2 linked regions of the Homo sapiens genome follow. The protein of the gene in region 1 purifies or fractionates together with the protein of each later gene. This does not show direct contact. Each region holds a gene or a part of one and is shown on either strand. Other genes may lie near its edges.

The links.
Region 2: the proteins of TUT1 (region 1) and SYMPK purify together in Homo sapiens (co-immunoprecipitation; one study listed by IntAct). This does not show direct contact.

The regions. Positions count from the first base shown.
Region 1 is NC_000011.10:62,584,898-62,588,549, reverse strand, and holds part of TUT1 (speckle targeted PIP5K1A-regulated poly(A) polymerase), read left to right. Parts: intron 1-3,652. UniProt on the Homo sapiens protein: Poly(A) polymerase that creates the 3'-poly(A) tail of specific pre-mRNAs. Localizes to nuclear speckles together with PIP5K1A and mediates polyadenylation of a select set of mRNAs, such as HMOX1.
Region 2 is NC_000019.10:45,846,028-45,849,679, forward strand, and holds part of SYMPK (symplekin), read right to left. Parts: intron 2,850-3,652; coding exon 2,723-2,849; intron 1,975-2,722; coding exon 1,725-1,974; intron 1-1,724. UniProt on the Homo sapiens protein: Scaffold protein that functions as a component of a multimolecular complex involved in histone mRNA 3'-end processing. Specific component of the tight junction (TJ) plaque, but might not be an exclusively junctional component. May have a house-keeping rule.

The DNA of each region.
Region 1 (3,652 bases):
AATTTTTATTTTTATTATTATATTTTTGAGTGCAGTGGCACAATCTCAGCTCACTGTGACGTCTACCTCCTGGGTTCCAGCAATTCTCACACCTTAGCCACCCAAGCAACTGAGATTACAGGCGCGTGCCCCCATGCCCAGCTAATTTTTGTATTTTTAGTAGAGACAGGGTTTCACCATGTTGGCCAGGCTGGTCTCGAACTCCTGACCTCAGGTGATCCGTGCACCTCAACCTCCCCAAATGCTGGGATTACGGGCGTGAGCCACTGCTCCCAGTCCCACCCTTTGGATTTTATCACTTCACCAGAGTTAGTCACTGGGGGATTTTTTTGTGTGTGTCATCTATTGATTCAGTGAATTCTTTGCCAAATATTTATTCACAGCTAACTTTGTACTAGGCACTATGCTTAGGGCTGCATTCTGAGTAGTGAATGGGGTAGATATGGTCCCTGCTCTCACAGAGCCTATAGTCTAGAGGAGAAAGTAAACAATTAAGTAATTATAGTGAAAGTTGGTGCTTAAAGAACAACATACCATTGGATCAACTCCACAAGAACCTGGTTGATAAACCAGTTAGCAGTTTATTAACTTACACTGAGGGTACTAAGGTTGTTTGGTTAGAACACCCTGTCCTTTGGAGAGTGTTAGATAAACAAGCTTGTGCTTTTTGTGTTGCTTCCCTGTAGGTTTTGGTCCCTTGAAAAAAGTTCACTGTTGAGGTGCTGTGTTCCTTGGTCATACTGTGGTTCTGAGGCTGTACTCTTGTTATGTAGGCATGGCTTAGGTGATCCAAAATATCCCTTTGCAGCCCAGGTTATCTTTTAGAATGGGGTGGAGCCTGTGTTTGTTAGGGATTGCATTCAGCAACCAAACTACAAATGGCTTAAACAATAGGAATTTAGTTTTTCTCATGTAACAAGAAGTCCAGACCTGGACAGTTCAGGGCTTTGCTGTTTTCCTGCTCTGCCATTATTGGTATGTGGCTCTTCATAGTTACGATACTGCTGCCCCATATCTTCAGAAAAGAAGAAGGGGCAGCTTGTAGGGCAGAGTATAAAAGGTTAGTGTCGGCCAGGTCCAGTGGCTCACGCCTGTAATCCCAGCACTTTGGTAGGCTGGGGCGGGTGGATCATGTGAGGTCGGGAGTTCGAGATCAGCCTGACCAACATGGAGAAACCCCGTCTCTACTAAAAATACAAAATTAGCGGGGCGTGGTGGCACATGCCTGTAATCCCAGCTACTCGGGAGGCTGAGGCAGGAGAATCGCTTGAACCCGGGAGGCGGAGGCTGCCTTGAGCCGACATCGCGCCATTGCATTCCAGCCTGGGCAACAAGAGCGAAACTCCATCTCATAAAAAAAGGTTAGTGTCAGCTGAGTTTGAGTCCCCTCCTCTATTTTTTTTCCTTTTATTCTGAGAAAAATGCCTTTTCTTTTTCCTTTTTTTTTTTTTTTTTTTGAGAGGGAGTTTTTTTGTGGTAGAATTCTGGCCACTGAGATATAAGTAGAAGTTTACTGAGGAGGCCTTTAGAAAAAGTATTTCTCTCGACTGGGCACAGTGGCTTACGCCTGTAATCCCAGCACTTTGGGAGACTGAGGTGGGAGGATCACCTAAGGTCAGGAGTTCGAGACCAGCCTGGCCAACATGGCGAAACCCCATCTCTACTAAAAATACAAAAATTAGCTGGGTGTGGTGGCAGGCGCCTGTAATCCCAGCAAGCAATTCTCCCGCCTCAGCCTCCCGAGTAGCTGGGACTGCAGGCGCGTGCCACCACACCCGGCTAATTTTTGTATTTTTAGTAGAGACCAGGTTTCACCATGTTCGCCAGGCTGGTCTCGAACTTCTGACCTCAGGTGATCCGCCTACCTCGGCCTCTCAAAGTGCTGGGATTACAGGTGTGAACTACTGTGCCTGGCCTAATTTTTTGTATTTTTAGTAGAGACAGGATTTCTCCATGTTGGCCATGCTGGTCTTGAACTCCTGGCCTCAAGTGATCTGCCCACCTCAGCCACGCAAACTGCTGGGATTACAGGCGTAAGCCACTGTGCTCCGCCTAATGATTAACATTTTTATTGAGGAACTACTATGCATCAATTGTGTGCTAAGCACATTATGTACACTTGCATCTAATCTCCACAACATTCTCTTAAGGGAAATGGTCAGTAGGCAGTTGGAGATTTGGGAGTTTAAGACACTGCTTGTGAGGCAGTTACAAGTTACTTAACCTCTTTGAGTTTCAGTTTCTTAATTTGTAAAATGGAAATAATAATACATACTTCGTAGGTGTCTTATGAGCCTCAGACATCGTTTGTGTGAACTGCTTAGTTTATAATAAGCCCTCAACAAATAGTAACTCTAGCTATGGATGGTGGTGTTGAGAGGACAAAAATGGCAAGGACACAGGCTCCTTATTTTTATTTATTTATTTATTTGAGATGGAGTTTTGCCCTTGTTGCCCAGGCTGGAATGCAGTGGCGCGAACTTGGCTTGGGGCGATCTCAGCTCACCGCAAACTCTGGCTCCCGGGTTCAAGTGATTCTCCTGCCTCAGCCTCCCGAGTAGCTGGGATTACAGGCATGCGCCACCGCGCCTGGCTAATTTTGTATTTTTAGTAGAGATGGGGTTTCTCCATGTTGCTGGTCTGGAATTCCCGACCTCAGGTGATCCGCCTGCCTCGGCCTCCCAAAGTGCTGGGATTACAGGCTGGGATTACAGGCGTGCGCCACCGTGCCAGGCCTGTTTATTTATTTTTGAGGTGGAGTCTCATTCTGTCTCCCAGGCTGGAGTGCAGTGGCACGATCTTGGCTCACTGCAACCTCTGCCTCCTGAGTAGCTGGGTTTACAGGCGCCTGCCACCATGCCCGGCTAATTTTTGTATTTTTAGTAGAGACGGGTTTCACCATGTTGGCCAGGCTGGTCTGGAACTCCTGGCGTCACATGATCTGTCCGCCTCAGCCTCCCAGGGTGCTGGGATTACATGCATGAGCTACCACGCCCAGCTGACACAGTCTTCTGAATCTGCCAGTCCTGCCCTCCCTGATGCCTTCTGTGAGGTTTTGGAGAAAAATAGGAGCACAGACAGGCCCAGTGAAAGAGACTCTTAATTTCCATCTGGGGCTTTGGTTACAAACTTGGTGGTGTACTGCAGTCTGGTAAACTGTGGTTTATTAGAGTCAGAAGACTGGCCTGGGCAGGTCCAAGTAGCTACCTTTGTCCTTGGCCTCACTTCAGTTCTTTGCTGTGTTTGGCATAGGGGTAGAAGTAAGTCTGCGCATGGTGATGTGCCCCTATCATCCCAGCTACTGAGGAGGCTGAGGCGGGAGGTTCGCTTGAGCCCAGGAATTCAAAGCTACAGTGAGCTATAATCACATCACTGCACTCCAGTCTTGGTGACAGAGCAAAATCCTGTCTTTAAAAAAAGAAGGGTGTGGCCGGGCCAGGTGGCTCACACCTGTAATCCCAGCACTTTGGGAGGCTGAGGTGGTTAGATCACCTGAGGTCAGGAGTTTGAGACCAGCCTGGCCAACATGGTGAAACCGTCTCTACTAAAAATACAAAAAAATTAGCTGGGCGTAGTGGCAGATTCCTGTAATCCCAGCTATTCAGGAGACTGAGGCAGGAGAATTGCTTGAACCCGAGAGGCGGAGGTTGGA
Region 2 (3,652 bases), on another chromosome or scaffold:
AGATCAAGACCATCCTGGCTAACACAGTGAAACCCTGTCTCTACTAAAAATACAAAAAATTAGCCGGGCGTGGTGGCGGGCACCTGTGGTCCCAGCTACTCGGGAGGCTGAGGCAGGAGAATGGCGTGAACACGGGAGGCGGAGCATGCAGTGAGCCGAGATAGCGCTACTGCACTCCAGCCTGGGTGAAAGAGCGAGACTCCGTCTCAAAAAATAAAAGTGAATTAAAAATCTAAATGACCATCAACAGAGCATTGCTTAATAGAATGTAATGTAACTATACTATGGAATATGGTATAGCAACTATATGATTCTCACAGGGAAGGACGTCACTGATACTATTAAGTCAAAAAGGCTGTCAAACAATACATAAGAATAGTTAATATTTATGGAATGTTTACTATTCCAGCCATATTAATACACCAAATGCTCATACCTACATCCTAAATTAGATGCCATAATAACGATCCCCAATTTACCAATGAGGAATCAGGCTCAGAGACAAGGGAAAATAGGCTGTGTGTCAGACACAAGCTACTATAATGTCTCTGAGATGAAAACACAAAGCATGGCCTCATTTTTGCAAACAGAAAAGCAAACAAATGCAGACACTATGCATATACACATACAAATACCTACATGTGCACAGGAAAGATCTGAAAGGAAACATAATACTCTTAACAGTGTTTATCTCTGGAAAGCAGGACTGAGGGAGGGGACATTATTCCTTTTGATTCACCCATATTGCTTGACACCAAGTGTATATATAGTACTTTTTTTTTTTTTGAGACAGTCTCATTCTGTCACCCAGGCTGGAGTGCAGTGGCACAGTCTCAGCTCACTGCAACCTCTGCCTCCTGGGTTCAAGCGATTCTCGTGCCTCAGCCTCCCAAGTAGCTGGGATTACAGGTGCCCGCCACCATGCCCGGCTAATTTTTGTATTTTCAGTAGATAAGGGGTTTCACCATGTTGGCCAGGGTGGTCTCGAACTCCTGACCCCAAGTGATCTGCCTGCCTTGGCCTCTCAAAATGCTGGGACTATAAGCATGAGCCACCACACCTGGCCTATGTCCTACTTTTATAATTTGCAGTTAAGAAAACTGTAAAACTGCCCGGCGCGGTGGCTCAAGCCCGTAATCCCAGCACTTTGGGAGGCCAAGGCGGGCGGATCACAAGGTCAGGAGTTCGATACCAGCTTGGCCAATATGGTGAAACCCTGCTTCTACTAAAAATAATTTTTAAAAAAATTGGCCAGGTATGGTGGCGGGAGCCTGTAGCCCCAGCTACTTTGGAGGCTGAGGCAGAAGAATCTCTTGAACCCGGAAGGCGGAGGTTGCAGTGAGCTGAGATTGTGCCATTGCACTCCAGCCTGGGCGACAGAGGAAGACTCCATCTCAAAAAAAAAAAAAAGAAAACCATAAAACTAGCTAGCATCGACTGGCTCACACTCATGGAACTTCACTACAAACCTGTGAGAGTGGTACTATGTTATCGTCTCCAATTTACAAAAAAGAAAATGAAGTACAGAGACAGGTAACTTGCCCAAGTTCATGATGAGTAAGCAGTGCAGCTGGGATCTGAACCTAGCACCAGGGATCTTAACTACTGCACACACTGTTCCAGAAATTTAAAACCAAAAAAGACAAGGGGGAGAGAGGGAGGGGCGTGAAGGAGAGGAAACTGGTGCAGGGCTGTCAGGGGTGGCAGCTGAAGGCAGTACTCACTGTACTGGATGTAGGGGTGGTCACGAGGGATGCGGTCCAGGCTGATATCATGCTCCTGGCGTCGGGGTATCTCTGAGTCAGCCATGCGGGGTGACAGGGTGACAATGAGGCCCTCCACAAACTTGATGGCGTGGGTGCGGATGCCGTCATTGTCAGAGTCCAATAGCAGGATGATGTCCCCCGCCATGGCAGATACCATGTCCCAGCAGGCCTCCTGTAGCTCGCTAATGACCCGTGACTTTACCATCCACTGCCAGCAGGCCAGGAAGGAATGGAAGAGACACACAAAGAGGTGAAGACAACGCATCAATCACCAACACCCTCTGCCAATACCCAGAGAACCATGAATGATGAATACATTCATTTGGTTAACAGTTACTGAGTTCCAACTCTGCCCCAGCCCAGTGCTCGGTGATGCTGGAGACAGGACTGAGTAGTGGCCAGGCCTCGCCCTGCCCTCATGGGGATGCAGAGAGTGACCACTCAGTGTGATGAAGGCACACATCTTCAGGGTAAAGGACTAACAGTGCTGACTTCACAAGGTGGTGGTGATTAAATGGATTCATTCGTTTTATTAATGCTAATGTACATCACACCATAGAGTGTTCTTTTCCTATCACACTCCATAATCAATATTTATGTGATTCATTAATTAAGGTCTACCTCCCTCCTTGGGTTATGAGCACTGTGAAGGCAGTAAGCTGTCTTGGTCACTGCTGTGTCCCCAGCATCACCTAGCCCAGGGCTAAGCACAGAGGACATACTCAGGGAATGTCTGTTGAGTGAATAAACGGATGGTCAATGGAAGGAATGAAGGTTAAGTGCAACTTCCTGACCTAGGAGACAACGTTAGCTCTCCATGTTATCTGTTCCCACAGACCAGTGGCACATCTTGCCCATAAAGAGTATGCTCGGATGCTGGTTTTGAACCCCAACATATTAGTTTGTCAACGAGACATATCAGGCAGGATGGCCCTGGGTGGGGAGGGCGCTCTCACCTGCAGGGCCACCTTGTAGAGCTGGGTCATGGTGAGGATAGCCTTCTTCACCACGTTCACATTCTCGTCCCTCAAGAGCATGTTGAGGTTTGCAATGAGTTTCAGCAGCAACTCAATGTCTCGCTTGCTGAGGGATGGAGAAAAAAGGGGCGAGGTCAAGGTGTGGTCTTAGAGCAAGTAGGAGGAGCCTGAGGTCCAGGAGGGAAGGGAAATCAGGGACCTGTCTCAGGGGACCGGAATGGCACATCCAGAAGCTGGGAACAGTGCTTGGTGCCTCCAGACTGAGCCGCCCCTGAACCCTCTATCTAGACTGGTCCTGTAACACCAACTCCTTTGCTCTCTCAGGGCCCTGCTGTTCACATAAGGGACAGTAGGGGCAGACAACTGTGTGAATTTGGACAAGCGACTTCACCTCATTTAGAATAATAGTATCTATCCAATTGTTTATGCAATTTTTTGGGAAAATTGCAACAATACTTGTAAAGTGCTTAGAAGAGTGCCTGACATGCAGAAAGCATTCAGTAAACACCAAAAAGCATTCGGTAAACACCAGCCATTGCTACTTTAAAGCACTTTGTTTTCTGTAATCACTAGTTTTGCTTGCCTCAGTCTGAGGGCTCAAAAAGTAGGGACCCTTTCCTAGCTTGGCAATAACCCCAGCAGGGTCATTTTCATTGAAGAAAAAAATGAAGGGCCTCCAACAAATGTTCAATGAATAAATAGGAGCTCAGCACAGAATTTTCACAGCATACATTACAATCTGAAATATTAATTAAATCAGTCAAAAAATATGAAACTTAGCTGTCAGCTACATGAAGGCAGGAATAATACGTTTTTGCTCACTGCTATACTACAGCCTAACATGGATGCCTGGTACGACAGCAGTCACATGGTATGTATTTGCTGAATGGACTTTTTACAAATTCAGAA